Regions from separate parts of the Homo sapiens genome. Here region 2 is linked to region 1. Evidence: fine-mapped expression QTL. Tissue or cell type: whole blood. Region 1 holds a variant in brackets; the other region holds the start of a gene. All regions are shown on one strand. Distances are between the middles of the regions.

Region 1 (8,105 bases):
GGTTAAAAAAAACTTCATAAATCATGTGCATTCCCCGTCAGGCATGACAAAAATACATGACCCTTGTGGGTCCCTGCCCAGTGAAGGCAAACAGCTCACTGAGGCAACGCTGGGAGTGCACACAGGCCTGCCACTGTCCTCCACCTCCCTCAGCCGAGCATGTTCCCCAGCTCAGGGCAGCCCCCATCATCCTTGACAGGCCAGGGAATTCCAGATACCAGACAATCATTCTAATGACCCTTCAGGAGTGAGTTTCAGTGTGCTGCCTTAGCCTCCACAGGCATTCGGCCTTTTTTTTTTTTCTTTTGAGGTGGAGTCTCGCTCTGTCACCAGGCTGGAGTGCAGTGGCGCGATCTCGGCTCACCGCAACCTCTGCCTCCCGGGTTCAAGCAATTCTCCTGCCTCAGCCTCCTGAGTACCTGGGACTACAGGCACACGTCACCACGCCCAGCTAATTTTTGTATTTTTAGTAGAGACGGGGTTTCACCATGTTGCCCAGGATGGTCTCCATCTCTTGACCTCATGATCTGCTTGCCTCAGCTTCCCAAAGTGCTGGGATTACAGGCGTGAGCCACCACGCCCGGCCTCATTCAGCCTTTTTATGACTAATTCTGGAATGAAGGAATGTGTCTGTTTCAGAAGTTCCAAGTATCAATAGGTAGAGTTCTAGTGAATTCCCAGAGTCTGGGGAGCCCCAAAATAACATATTCTAGTGTCTACGTTTGCTTGTCTTTAAAAGGGAGCTAATAATACTCACGTCTTGGGGTACGAAGAGTTTGCAGACAGGCAGTGCCGAGCCCAGCATCTAATGCATGGCAAGCACTCCAGCCTCCTCCTGTGCGCCAGGCTCAATCTCCACTCATTCATCAGGCGCGTGCCCAGTGCCTGTGGTGTGCTGAGCGTGCGCTGGGCGCGGGGTTCAGAGTCTCCTGGGGCCCAGTCCCTGCCTCCAGGAGTTTACACAGAACAGCCTCTGAGACTCCCAGCATCAGGCAAGACAAGCTGGTGTCCCTTCCAGGACCCAAGGCCTTCCCTCCCCAGCCTGAGGCAGGGGTACCCTCCCTCAATTCCCCAGTTACCTTCCCACCACTCTCCAAGGTCTCAGTTTATTGTTTTTTCATTCTACCGGGGGCTGACCTTAGTTGTGGTTTAATGGCCTTTTCCTCCTGCGGCCCCTCTTAACTGACACCTGGAATGCCTCTCTGAGCTGCCTCTCGCCTTTCTGTCTCTGCTAATGAGGTTTCTAACAAAGCCATGTGTCACTGGAAGTCTGCTCACAGAGGGACTGCTGGACTGTAGCCTGGGGGACCCGGGCTCTGTGGGAGGAAGGGGATGTGGCAAGGGGGGAGGGCCGAGGGAACACAACATTTCTTTCAGAAAAGGCTGAGGCCTGGGGCGAGGGAAGGCAGGAGGCTGGAGCCCGCTCCCTCTGAGCATGCTCCAGGGTGGCCACAGGCTGACGGCTGGAGAACTCACCCCAACCCCCAGGCTCTGGAGAACTCGCCCCAATCCCCAGGCTCTGGAGCTGTCATTGTAGCCACCTGAGCAACGGCTGAAGGACCAGGGCCTGGACCTTGTAGGGTGCACCTAACTTAGTGTCTGGCACAAGGAGACACTGGGTGTGTGCTAGTGGCTTCTCTCTAGTCTGTCCACGTGGGTGGGCTTCAGAGAAGATGGCCTTGAGTGTCCCCAGGCACTGTCCTTTCTGTGCCGGGGAAGGTCTATGTGCATCCCCAGCCAGGCCTGCTCCTGGAGGATTCCGTCTCCTAGGCCAAACTTGACAGAGGAAGATGAGCTCCACGAAGAGCCCTGGAGACCAGACCTTCCAGAGAAGAGACGGCTGTGCGATAGCCCAGGAATAAGTGCTCTCCAACTTTCCACAGGGCTGTTAGATCCAGGAAAGAAACTCAGCTCTCAGGCTCAGGGATCAAGAGATTGTATGTAGAAAACACCTCATGGTACATCCATAATCAGCCAACAGATCAAGCACCTACTCCCTGGAAAATGAGTGCTGAAAGGCTGCTCTTGGCAAGAACTAAACTCCAATGAAGGCACAGCCATGCAGTGTACTTGCTGTTACTGTGAATCTGGTACTGTCTGTTCATTCAGTTCTCCCAACAAACCTGGGAGGAGGAAGATGTTGCTGCCATTGCCCCCCATAACAGATGAGGCAACTGAGTAACAGAGAGGTTAAGCAATTGGCTCAAGCACACAGAGCTGGCAAGCAGTAGTTATAAGATTAGAACTCGAGCCTGAACTCGAGCATGATGCTGTACTATCTGCCCCACTTGCAGGGAGGGGGAGGTTTGGGAGCCTGGGAGAAGGTGGGGGAGCAGGAACAAGTCAGGCCAGTGGGCAAATCGTGTCAGCAGAGCAGTCTAAGCAGAGGGGAAACCAAAGAGAGGAGCCACGCCGTCCTGGCCCTGAGTACACTGGGCCTGGTGGAGAAGCCAACCAGGGACAGAGACAGGAAAGCTGGATGAGAAGGGCCTTGGGTGCTGATCTGAGGAGCTGCCCTGTGCCTGTAGACAGTGTCTCAGTAGAAAAGTCTGGCCAAGTGCAGACTGGAGGGGACAGGCAGAACCATGACCCAGGGAGCCGGGACAAGTCACTAGAACTCTCTGGATAAGGAGCAGGCCCCCTCTCTGACCAGCCCGGGGCAGGACCTCCCTGTGTAGAACAAAATTGTGTCCATCAGACTGCTGTGTCCAGACAGCTCTAGGTGAGGGCTGAGATCACATGCAGTGTTCCCAGATCGATTTGCTAGATCTGAGGGTCACCTAGACTATGATTGTTTTTATGGTTTCCTTAAGTCAACTTTCTCATTCTCTTTTACTTTACTCAAGTTTACTTGAAATGAAAACTCTGTAACATGGGATTGATATTCTACCTTTTCCTCCAATACTTATTAAAATAAATCTGTTTTACAGGTTTGGTCCCTGCCAAAATACATACACATGTACATTAAAATATAGATACTATATATAACACTATTAGAATGCAAAACTTTCATCCAAGTTCTACCTAAAATCACCCAGGGACCTTTGCACTTAGGAAACATTGTCTTGTGGCCTATCCCTTGCTCTCCAGTTGAAGTGACCTCATTCAAAGATTTCACATTTGGAAAAGGCAAATCAGAAAATCACTCAGACCCAAGGGAGGGAAGGAGGCCAGGCTTGGGCTGGGGGCGGGGGCTGGGAGGCACCCTGGTGGGCTTGAGACCCAGGGGCTGGGGGCAGGCAAGTGAGCTGCCTAGGGCCGTGAATGAGGCCTTGTTGAGAGCCGTGGCAGCTCGGCAGTGTGCAGAGACCATGCTGCAAATGTAAAGTTTCCAATAACTTTTATGGGTGGTTTCTTAATAAACATCTGAGCAGCCTGTCTGGACCGAGAGCTGTGTTGTCCCAGGCGCCCAGAGATGGAGCTGGGTGAGGGGCTGCTGTCTGCAGTGTCAGCCTCTGCACCCCACCCACAGCCTCCCACGGCATCCCCTCCCCATCTCCCCTTTGTCTTCCTCTGTCTTCCTTTTTACTTCCTTTTCGCTGTTTAATGAGAACGACTTCCATTTGCTATTTGTTGACTGAGTCCGGCACTGCATTAAGCTCTGTCTACATTTTGTCTTAGTGCTTGCAGGCACTTTATAAGGTAGACGCAAGTATTGTGCCACTTTTACACATCAGGGAACGTATGAACACATCAGGTTGCTCAGCAATGAAGTGGAAGAGCATTGATAGCCCTTTGGGCACAGATCTGTGTGCCTCCAAAACCCATGCTCTGAGCGCTGGTAACCTCTACTCCTCCTCTTCCTCACCTTGTCAGCATCAGCACTCCACCTTCCCTTTCCTCCTCCGCTTCGAATCTCAGAGCCAACTTCAGCTAGTGCCTCTCCCTTCGGAAACACCTCCGGGAAATACCTCCTCCCAGATCACCCCTGCCAGAACCAGCAACGACTATGAGTACAGCACGTGGGTCTGCAGGTTAGTTGACTTGTCTGTGATGGGACTGATTAATCGAATGCTGAGACACTTTTGTAGCCATTTGAAAGCCATTTGGGTTATTGGCCCTGGCTTCAGATAAACAAGATAAATAAACCTCAGCAAGAAGGAAATGGCTTCTGGGGTCTTTCTCAGAATTTGGTACATCAAAGTGAAGTCCTAGATGGAAGGGTACACTTCCCACAAGCACCTTCCAGTGGGGTCCCTTGCTTTGTTTAGTTGACTTATCACTAAACATATGGGCTATAAGATTGATAATATGTTTTGTAAAAAGGGTAGATGCTCAATGGCCTCGTTGGGCCTATCCAAAGATAGAATGCTATGGGAAAGGAAAACACCTTAAGAAGAAAAGTTCTTGGGTGAGGCGCGGTGGCTCACGCCTGTAATCCCAGCACTTTGGGAGGCTAAGGTGGGTGGATCACTTGAGACCAGGAGTTC[G/A]AGACCAGCCTGGCCAACACGGCGAAACTAAAAATACAAAATTTGCCAGGTCTGGCGGGGGGTGCCTATAATCCCAGCTACTCAGGAGGCTGAGGCAAGAGAATCGCTTGAACCTGGGAAGCAGAGGTTACAGTGAGCCGAGATCATGCCACTGCACTCCAGCCTGGATGACACGGCAAGACTCTGTCTCAAAAAAAAAAGAAGAAGAAGAAAGGTTCTCAGATGTCAGGAGACAGAAACAGTGACCTTGAAGTGTAAACACTGAACCCTTAGCTCACAACAAATCAGTTAGAATGTATTAGCTGCATTAGAACTGTCCACACTGACTTCAACCCTGTATTTCTTGGGTCTGGAGCCTTTTGTAGGGCTCCGTGTGTGTACATATTCTGCAAACTCCTAACCTGGAAGCAGTCATTTGGTGGCTATAAGCTGTGAGCAAGAAATGCTCCAATTATCTGTGCATTAAGATTAATCAGAACTCTGGTCACCGATGCATATATGTGTGATGCTGAAGCACTGCCTTCCAGCCTCTCTGTGGTTGTGTTTGTCTGATAATTATAAGATCCGTGAGGACAGAGGCCACAGATCAGGGATGTCCTTCTTCCGAGATGGAGACAAGGGCAGAGCAGGTGGCAAACTGTGGCCTTGTGTTCCAGGGGGGCGTGTCCACACTTCACACTCTGATTGTGCTGGCTTGCAGTGTGGCTGGGCCTCTCGGGTTGCAGCACCCTCATTTGTTCTACCCTAACACAATCAAGAAAGATAAAAAAGAACACTGTAGCCAGGGAATCTCAGCTGCTGTGCCAGTCACCGGCCATTCATTGTGTGGGGCTGAAGATCTAGCTGGGAGTCAGGTCTAAGAACTGGTTCAGCTCCTCCCCTTGCCTCATCTGTGAAGGCTACTCAGAGGAAAGAAACATGCACCTAGGCTCTCGAAGCCTTCACTGAAGGACAGAGAGTGCTTGTTACAGGCAGTTCCTTCAGGGTTGAAATTCCATTTCAGGTCTCAGCACCTAAAGTCATTTTTCTTTCTTATTTATGTTTCCTGTGGAAAGTCTGAAGAAAAACTGGTGGAGCATCTTTTGAGTTTGCATTTGGAAGGGAGAAAATATGCTCCTTCTCTGCTGGGCAAACATTGCAAACATTGGTGCTTTCACAAACCAAACACAAGCTGGTTTTCAAAGCCTCCGGCTTGGCGACCCAGGGAACTGGGGGGAGGGGAGGAGAAGGATGCAGCCACCTGGGCTGGGGAGGTTTGCTTTGGGAGCAGAGGTTGGAATTTGTGAATTTTCTACTCCAAGAAGATCCAAATAGTGCAGCTCCAGCCCCATCCTGCGCAAGCTTGCTCAGGCAATAGGGGCTCTACCTGGCTGGGGTCTCGATGGAGAGCCAGGGCCTTGGATGATCACCTCCCCGCCCCAATGCAGCCTGGAGTGAAGTGGAGAGGGGAGGGGTGAAGAGGTGTAGGAGAGACGGTGCAGATGAACCAAGATGGCCTCAGGGATTCTGGTCCCTCTCTCTGGGTGATGCTGAGGATAGAGAGCGGGGGTGAGAGTGAGAAGAACATGCCTCTGCACCCACAAATTTGCCAGGCTTTCAAACACTGACCAGGCAATCCACTGGGCAGTTGTTCCTATAAAGCTAGGACTATGAGAATAGCAGATGTATACTATGGTCTGTCTGGTTCTTTCAGCGTAGTCTGTAGCAAAAGGTTTCCTCACTCCCTCCTTTTCTTCTTCCTTCCTTCCACTTCTTTCTTGACAGAATAATATAATAAATTTCCAAGCACTCATCACTAGCTTTAATAAGTATCAACTAATGGCCAATCTTGTTTAATCCATAACTGCACCTACTTCACCCACTCTTTGTCCTCCAACTGAAATGTTTTGAAACAAAATCTAGACATCATATCCTTTTATCCATAGATACCTAGATTTAAAAAAAATTTTTGATATTGAACTCTGATGATACAGGGAATCTCCTTCCCGGTATCTTAGGGAAAAAATGCCCTTCATAAGTCTACATATAAATTTTGCAAATCATTGTAGGGGTTCAGGGAACCTCCGAAGCTCATCTAAAGACCTTAAATTTAAACCCTTGGTATATAGGGTAATCGCTAGCTCCCATAGAACACATTGTTTTTGGTAGCCTGGAGCTATTAGCTGTTCCTTTGAAGGAGATTTACTTTCTTGTTTTATTTGCAATAGGTATGCACTGAGTGCATTGTGACCATGCTGGGTTATTGTGGGTAAAGGTGAGAGAAGGCAGGGCACGCAGGGCAGATGATTACATTCCTGCCGGGAGGGCTGGAGAGCCCTTGGAAAGCAGCCTGCAGGCTGAGGAAGGAGGGACTCCGGGATCTGCCCTCAGGGGCTGCAGGAAGGAGGAACCTTTTCTGAGTAAGCTTTCCTGGGGGTTTGTTTATTGGCCAGCGTTAGGTCTCTGAGTGGTTGTTAATGTGTTTGTTTAGGGTCCATTGTGATGTCTTTAAGATAAAGACCTGCTCAGTTTACAGGCAACTGTCAAGTACTGGGCTTGGAGCCCAGGGAGCCAGTGAGGGAAGCATTTCCAATATGGCGATCAAAGCCACACTTAGGGCCTTCCTAGGCTCCTGAAATAATCTTGGAAGGCACTCTGGGAGAGGATCAGCAGCATGCACAGGGTTAGACTAGAGGGGCTCTTTCAGGCTGGACAAATAGCTGTTGAATAAGGAAACAGACTTCTTTGTTCTCTTTTTTTTTTTTTTTTTTTTTTTGTTTTGAGAGGAGGTATAGGAGCAAAGCCATTTTAGATGCTAGGGGTTCTTTGGAGAGAGCCCAGAAGCTTTCTGATCTTAATATCCAACTCTTTTGCTATTTCCCCTACCTCCTCATCCCACCTCAGGGTCAGCAAATCTCCATGTCTGCAGACCCAGGGACCTGTAGTTAAGCTGCATGGAGCCTAAAAAAAGGCACTGTGGTGCTGGTGCTTGGATACACATGGCAGGGGACACAGAAGTACTGAGATGGGCACAAAGAAACTCTGGAATTTATAGTAGAGCAAGGATGGCATTTCAACCAGTTAGGATAGACTTTTCTTGCTGTCACCCAGGCTGGAATGCAGTGGAATGATCTCGGCTCACCACGACCTCTGCCGCCTGGGTTCAAGCAATTCTTGTGCCTCAGCCTCCCAAGTAGCTGGGATTACAGGTGTGTGCCTCCACGCCTGGCTAATTTTTGTATTTTTAGTAGAGACAGGGTTTTGCCATGTTGGCCAGGCTGGTCTTGAACACCTGACCTCAAGAGATCTGCCTGCCTTGGGCTTCCAAAGTGCTGGGATTACACGTGTGAGCCACTGCACCCAGCCAAGATAGAATTTTCAATAAATGTCCCAGCACAACTGGGCAGACATTTGGGAGAAAAAACAGTAAGTTCAGATGTATATCTCATACCTTAAAATGAGATCAATTGTATGTGGATCAAAAATTTAAATGTAAAAATTTAACCCTAAAAGAACTTAAAGGAGCCAGGAGAAAAAAATTTAAAATCTATGAATGAAACCAGAAACCATAAAATAAAATAACAATAAATTTGACCATATAAAAATAAAAAGTGTTTGCATGGCAAACAAAAAGAATAATCATAAACAAAGTCAAAAGCCAAAATGAGGCCAGGCACAGTGTCTCATGCCTGTAAT
Region 2 (8,090 bases), 94 kb before region 1:
TTACCTTGGGCATCTCCACCAGAGGTTAAGACAGCAATGGCTTTGCCAATCCCCAGGGTTTTGGCTGCATGGTGCTCTTCATGGGTCATGATCCACTCTAGAATTTAAGACAATGGTCAGTTAAGACACAGCAGGAATCAAGATGCCACTAGCTAAAGGAACGGCAATTAGACTGGCTAGAGCCACCTCAGTCAGGCTCTCCCACTATACCAAGTCTGAGCTTTGCAGCCTGAGAGCTTTGGACTTCTTCCAGAGGAAAGCCACACCCTTGTAGACTGACAAGCTGAAATGTCATGTAATCAAGCCCAAGACTACTAAGGTCCTAATTCCTCCCTGATCCCTCCCACCCCAATTGGAACCTATTTGGGGAATAAACTAAGGTCAGGGAAAAGAGAAGTTGACTGAATAGAAATGAGAAAGGGAGGAGAAAAAGTTGAGTTAGCCTCAACGATCCCTCCCTTTTCAATGAAGGGATAGGTTATTGCAGAGGGCTGGAATCAGATGAGGTTTAGGGCACTGATGACAATCAGCAAAGTAGAAGTAGAAGAGCAAGGGTAGGTTGGATTATAATTAAGATTAGGGTTGGGTGTTATGGAATTGTGCTATTGGAATGGGGTTAGGTGATATGGAGTTGAAACTGGAGTCTGAGGCTATAAAGGCACATCAGAGTTAGGCAAATTAATGGTGTCAGTCTCAAGAATGGTCAGGGGCTTTCTATGGCTCTTCCCTCTCAGGATGTCAGCCTCCTGAGCATCTCTTGATCCTTGGTCTTTGGGTCTTGCCCCTCACATTACTACATGCTATGAAATGAGAAAATTAACACAAAGTCACTGCCGTATATACACAGATGTGTACATACGACATGGGAACACCTTCATATTTTATTCTTTAGGGATCACCTCTCTCAAAGGAACACACAAGAGGACGTATTTTTGTATCCATAAAATGCCAGTAGAATTATCACTCTCCCAGTTTTTCAGGCTAAAACCTGTTATTTTAAATTTATCTCCTCCCTTCCTCTCAGATTCAAAACAGTAACTAAATCCTATTATTCTCCCTTCTTATTATCTTCCTTTATCCATCCCCTCCTTTCTATCCTCATTGCCATTTTCCACCTGAACTGCTTACTACAATAGCTGGTTTCCCTGTGCTTGTGTTCCTTTCTTCACTCTATTAGACACACAAAATAAACCTTCATAGGAAGGTCATAGGTCCCTAGGCTTCAGTGGAGATGTGTATTCATTCACAGGAACCCAAGTTTTACGGGCAGCTTGTGCTTGCTTCTACCCTGCATTTGGAGAACTCAGGGTAGCTGCCTATAGAGACATAAGTCACATAAACACCCAAATCCACACAAATAATAAAATAATGCAATGAGACATATATGAAGACATACATTCACAAACATGCATTGTGTTAACAGACAGAGATTAATGAACGTACTACATATAATCAGTACTAACAAATAAGGTCCCAACTTGTTGGGTTGGCATTCGAAGCTTCTACAATTTAGCCCTTGCATATAGCTTCAACTGTTGGTCCTATAGATTCTCTGCTCCATTGTCACCTGAACATTACTTTGCTCTTCCCACTTTAGTGCCTGGGCACACTGCATCCCTTGTCCAGGTGGCTACCCTGGCCCTTTCCACAGATTCACATCCCATTCCATCATTTAAGACCAGTGATAGTTGTACCCTTATTAAACCTTCACTGATTACCACAGGTCAAGGAAACCTTCTTTTGGACTTCCTCTAACCACATGTTGTCTAAACTGGATCACTGCCTCCCAGGTTCAAGTGATTCTCCTGCCTCAGCCTCCCGAGTAGCTGGGATTACAGACATGCACCACCACACCCGGCTAATTTTTGTATTTTTAATTGAGACGGGTTTTCACCATGTCGGTCAAGCTGGTCTTGAACTCCTGACTTCAGGTGATCCGCCCACCTTGCCTCCCAAAGTGCTGGGATAACAGGCATAAACCACCATGCTCGGCCTGCTTTATGTGGCATTTTAATAGTTTCGTACGCACTGATAAGAGGGTTGGACTAGATCAGGGGTCAGCATACAACAGCCTGTAGGCCAAATCCAGCCCTTCTCACATTTTTGTATGGCAGTAAGCTGTGAAAGGTTTTTATATTTTTTAGTGGTTGCAAAAAGTACTTCATGACATGTGAAAAATGTTAAGTTCAAATTTCAGTATGTGCACTACCTTCGTTCATTCACGTATTATCATGGATGTTTTTGTGCTACAACAGCAGAATGGATATTGTGACAGAGACTCATAAGCCTGCAGTTTAAAATATTTACTATCTGGTCTTTTACAGACGAAGTTTGCCAACCACTGGACTGGATGGCTGCTAAAGTCATTTTTCCTAACTAGACTGAGAACTCCTCCAGGGCAGGGATCATGATCATTTTTAAAAACTCTCCCACAGCTCACTAAAGACTTGCAAAGTCTATGCACATTACAGGACCCCAATAAATACTTGTTGAAAACGTTAATGAACTGATGAACTACATGAAATACAAATATATGAAAAATGTAAAATCGGCTTAGATACAGATATACCTCCATATTCTACTTTAAAACACACTTTTAACTTGGACTTGAGAAATCATATAGTGACAAACAGTGAAAGGAACATAGAGACACGCGTGACTAGAGACGCTCTTATTTAACTGGAATGTTCATGTCCAAATTTCTGCTGTTTTCCAAAAAGAAAGATTAAGTGACTAGGGCAAATAGGAAGGCAAAAAGGTGGAAAGGAAAAAACAAGACATCTGGGTATGCTGATCCCTTTCCTCCCGTTTTTTCTTCTCATTCACTCTTGGAGCTCATGACGGGGGCAGAATCCCACACAGAGCTCTTCCACCCCTGGAAGCGTCAGTGAGGGAGAAAATTCGCCATAACAAGAGGAGTTTAAGAGTGCTGACCTGTAAAAACCGCTCATATTCTTCTCCTGAAATCTCTAAGACAGTTATAGAGGCACAGGACACAGAAATTCATGCAGACTCATGTATAAGCATCCCTTACAGACCCACAATGACACGCACGTAGACAAAAACAGACAGATATTAAAACATATCTCTAAAATCACGTGCGTATATAAGCACGCGGCAGGGAGGAACAGAAAAGCAGCATCATAGGAGCACTGATTTGAATTGGGTGAGTGCCAGGGTAGGGTCAGGCAGCCAAGGGCAACCCGTCCGAGCCCCACCCACCCATCCCAGATTCCTGGGGAATGCAGCTGAGCCTGCAAGCGGAGGGGACTGGCCAAGGGGCTAGGATCCTTCACGACTGCCCTGCCCATCCCCCTCTCGGCTCCAGCTTAGGATGCCGTATCTCTTCTTTTCCTTTCTGCTCCTTTCAGTTCTCCCTACCGCCTGCTCCCGGCCCATACCTTCCCACCTCACTCCCAGCTCTCCCCCTTGCTCTTCACTCAATGGCCCCTCTTGCCTTTTAGTCTTAGCTCTCCTCCGCCGCTGCTTTCTTGCAGATTGTCCTTGGGAAAGGGGGGAGGGGTGATGGACGAACATGGGGAGGAGCCAGGTGGAGGCAAAGAGGGAGGGGGAAGGAGGAGAGGCTTCCCAACCTCCACTAACAGATGCTGACAAGAAGGCTCCGCCTCCTCCTGCTTGCCTTTCTCCTCCTCTTCCTCCTCCCCCTAAGTACTCAGCTCAGATATGGCAGCGGCTTAGTTCCTTCACTCCCCAGAGTCCTGGGGTCCTCATATCTATCTCGAGAGCCATCAGCATCTTTATTTAATGGGAATAATAAATTATTTCGTTGCTTCTCTTGTTTTCAACACAGAACTTTTTCCTAGTCCAGACTGCCTGAGACACCTTGCATTCCAACATCTTCAGCAACTGCTAATAAAACCTGCCCCTGTGGCCCTCTATCCGTCTTTAAGCAAACATTTCTTGGGAGTCTGTGTGCTAGATTTTGCATTAGGTGCCGAGAGGTTTAAAAAAAATAAATATAGTCCCTGCCTTTGAGGAACATTGAATTATGACATCTTCTATAGAATAGCCTCAAAAACTTCTTTTACATTTACATTACCTTTCTCAGAGAAAGTACAGAAAAGCTAGCTATTTGGAATGAAAGTGTCAAGAGGGAAGGGCGTGTCTGTGAGGCCACTTCTCAAGCCTGCAGTGGGGAGGGATGGGGGCGGGATTCTGGCAGTGAAGCAAACATATAAATTGGGCTTCACAGCAAACAGGATCCACTCTGGAAAAAGGGTCAGATGCTCCCAGAGCAAGAGGTGCATCCATTACTCAAGTCTCACCTTCCCTTTGCTTCATTGTCTCCACAGTCGGGTCTCCTCTTGCTTTTACCACTGCCCTCTTCCTCTTGCTTACTTGTATCTCTACCTCTGCACATTCTGGCACAAACAATACAAATGCAAGTGACTAGGAGATAAAACCCCATTTGACTACACAAAATAAAAGCATTTGTTCTCCAAATTATACCATCAAGAAAGTGGAAAGACAACCCACAGAATGGGAGAAAATATTTGCAAATCATGTATCTGATAAGGGGCTGGCATCCAGAATAAATAAAGAACTCATTTGCAACTCATTAAGAATGTAAACCAAAAATAAAATTATAAGCCCCTCAACCATCTGAATAGACCCCTCCTCTCAGTCAAGGGTATTCCAAAGTTAATCTGAAAAACTAGTTCAGACGTTGATGGAAAGGGGAAGCCAGACACACTTCATTATATGCTCCTCCCTTTTGGAATTACTGATAGAACAGACTCTTTAAGTCTGATAAGAAACATTTACAATCTATTCTCTGAAACCTGCTACCTGGAAGCTTTGTCCACCTGATAAAACCTTGGTCCTCACAGATTGCTTTTCTATTAAGTCTTTGGACAATAACTTAACTCTTTTCACCAATTTCCAATCAGAAAATCTTTGAATCTACCTATGACCTGGAAGCCCCGCTCCCCCCTCCCTGCTTCCAGTTATCCCGCCTTTCTGGACTAAATGAATGTACATCTTACATATATTCATTGATACCTTATATCTCCCTAAAATTTATAAAACCAACTTGTGGCCCGACCATCTTGAACACATGTTCTCAGGATCTCCTGAGGGCTGTGTCATGGGGGAGCTATTGGTCACTCGTATTTGGCTCAGGATAAATCTCTTCAAATGTTTTACAGTTTGACTCTTTTCAGTGACAATAAAAAGAAAATACCTCAATTTAAAAATGGGCAAAAGAGTTGACCAAAGAAGATATACAGGTGGCAAATAAACATGAAAAGATGTCAACATCATATGTCATTAGCGAACTGCAAATTAAAACAGTGAGACACCACTACACACCTATTAGAATGATTAAATGATTAAAATTCAAAAATCCAAATGCTAATGAGAATGTGGAACCACTGGAACTCTCATTAATTGCTGGTGGGAATGCACAATGGTACAGTCACTGTAGAAGACAGTTTGACAGTTTTTTACAAAGCTAAATATTGTCTTACCACATGATCCAGCAATAGCACTCCTAAGTATTTAGCTGAATGAGCTGAAAATTATGTCTGCACAAAAAACCTGCACATGAATGTTTATAAAAGCTTTATTCATAATTGCCAAAAGCTGGAGGCAACCAAGATGTCCCTCAAAAGGTGAATAAACAAACTGTGATACAGCTATACAATGGAATATTTTCCATCAATAAAAAATTATCAAGCCAGGAAAAGACATAGTGAAACGGGCCAGTGTGAAAAGGCTGCATACTGTATGATTCCAACTGTATGACAGTCTGGAAAAGGTAAAACTACGGAGACAATAAAAATATCAGTTGTTACTGGGGCTTGGGATAGAGAAGGAGAGATTAATAGGTGGAGCACAGGGGATTTTAGGGGCACTAAAATGATTCGGTATGATGCTATAACAGATACATGACATACATTTGTCATGACATTATGCATTTGTCAAATTCATAGAACTATACAATCCAAAGAGTAAACCCTAATGTAAACTATGGAACTTAGCTAATAATAATGTATAAATATTGGGTTATCAATTATCACAAGTGTACCACACTAATGCAAGATGTTAATAAGTAGGGAAAACTGGCCAGGCACAATGGCTCACACCTGTAATCCCAGCACTTTGGGAGGCCAAGGCAGGTGGATTGTTTGAGCTCCGGAATTTAAGACCAGACTGGGCAACATGGTGAAACCCCGTCTCTACAAAAATACAAAAAATTAGCCAGGTGTGGTGGCACATGCCTGTAGTCCCAGCTACTCAGGAGGTTGAGGCACAAGAATGACTTGAGCCTGGGAGGCAGAGCTTGCAGTGAGCCGAGATTGCGCCACCACACTCCACCCTGGGCGACAGAGTGAGATCCTGTCTCAAACATAAAAAATTTAAAAATGAGCAAAGGCTTGAATAGACAGTTCTCTAAAAATGATATATAATGGCTAAAAAGTACAAGAAAAGATGCTCAACATCAATAGCCATTAGGGCAATGCAAATCAAAACTACTTCATTTGAAGTGAAAATACTACTTCATATCCATTAGGATGGCTATTATCAAAAAAGAAAAAAAGAAAGGAAGGAAGATGGAAGGAAGGAGGTAGGGAGGGGTGGAGAGAGAGAAAGGAGGGAGAGGGGGAGGGAAGGAAGGAAGGAAGGAGAAAAGAAGGAAGGAGGGAAGGAGAGAGGGAGAGGAAGAAAGGAAGGAGGCAGGGAGTGAGGGAGAGAGAGAGGAAGGAAGGAAGGAAGGGAGGGAAGGGGGGAAAGGAAAAAGAAAGAAAAGTATTACAGCGGATGTGAACAAATTGGAACCCTTCTGCATTGCTGGTAGGAATGTAAAGTGGTGCAGCTGCAGTGGAAATTTGGCAGTTCCTCAAATGTTAAACATAGAGTCATCATATTAATTAGCAATTCCACTCCTAGGTATATACCTACGAAAAATGAAAACATATGTACACACAAAATCTGTATACCAATGTTCATAGCAACATTATTCACAATGTTGGCAAAATGTGGAAAGAGCCCAAAGTCCATCAACTAAAGAATGGATAAATAAAATGTGTCATATAAATATGACAAAAAGTGTCAAAATTTGTAAAATATTTGAAGATATTTATTCTGAGCCAAATATGAGTGACCAATGGCCTGTGATACAGCCCTCAGGAGATCCTGAGAACATGTGCCCAAGATGGTCAGGCTGTCAGGCCTCTGAGCCCAAGCTAAGCCATCATATCCCCAGTGACCTGCACGTATACATCCAGATGGCCTGAAGCAACTGAAGATCTACAAAAGTGAAAATAGCCTTAACTGACGACATTCCACCATTGTGATTTGTTTCTGCCCCACCTTAACTGATCAATGTACTTTGTAATCTCCCCCACCTTTAAGAAGGTTCTTTGTAATTCTCCCCATCCTTGAGAACGTACTTTGTGAGATCCACCCCCTTCCCTCAAAACATTGCTCTTAACTCCACCGCCTATCCTAAAACCTATAAGAACTAATGATAATCCACCACCCTTTGCAGACTCCTTTTTCGGACTCAGCCCACCTGCACCTAGGTGAAATAAACAGCCTCGTTGCTCACACAAAGCCTGTTTGGTGATCTCTTCACATGGACACGTGAAACATTTGGTGCCGAAGACCCGGGTCAGCAGCCTTCCCTTGGTGTTTAATTATCGTGGGGATGCCTCTCTGATTATTCACCCATGTTCCATTGGTGTCTGATCTCCACAGGGACGCCTGCCTTGATCATTCACCCGTGTTCCCTTGGTGGCAAGTCAATTGCAGGGATGCCTGCTTTGGCTGCTCACCCACATTGCAGCCCAGAGCTGCTCCCCATCCCCCTTCTCCATGACTCTACTCTTCTCTTTAAACTTGCCTCCTTTACTATGGGCAACCTTCCACCCTCCATTCCTCCTTCTTCTGCCTTAGCCTGTGTTCTCAAGAACTTAAAACCTCTTCAACTCTCACCTGACCTAAAATCTAGGCATCTCATTTTCTTCTGCAACACCGCTTTGCACCAATACAAACTCGACAATGGTTCTAAATGGCCAGAAAACGGCACTTTTGATTTCTCCATCCTACGAGACCTAGATAATTTT

What was found. PIP is the estimated chance that this variant, and not a neighbour inherited with it, causes the effect.
Region 2: it holds the start of PFKM, and the variant in region 1 is fine-mapped to the expression of PFKM in whole blood (TOPMed, PIP above 0.99).

What each region holds. Positions count from the first base shown.
Region 1 is chr12:48,020,689-48,028,793 of GRCh38, reverse strand. All of the region lies in intron 2 of LOC105369750 (a long non-coding RNA gene), which reads right to left. LOC124902927 (a long non-coding RNA gene) reads left to right here and starts at 6,619. Exons shown (of 2, transcript XR_007063293.1): 1 at 6,619-6,829. RefSeq lists an enhancer at 6,285-7,276. The variant G/A (reference allele first, on the strand shown) is at 4,431.
Region 2 is chr12:48,114,774-48,122,863 of GRCh38, reverse strand. PFKM (phosphofructokinase, muscle) reads right to left here and starts at 3,500. Exons shown (of 23, transcript NM_000289.6): 1 at 3,458-3,500; 2 at 5-97. The coding sequence starts at 89. RefSeq lists an enhancer at 3,835-3,904.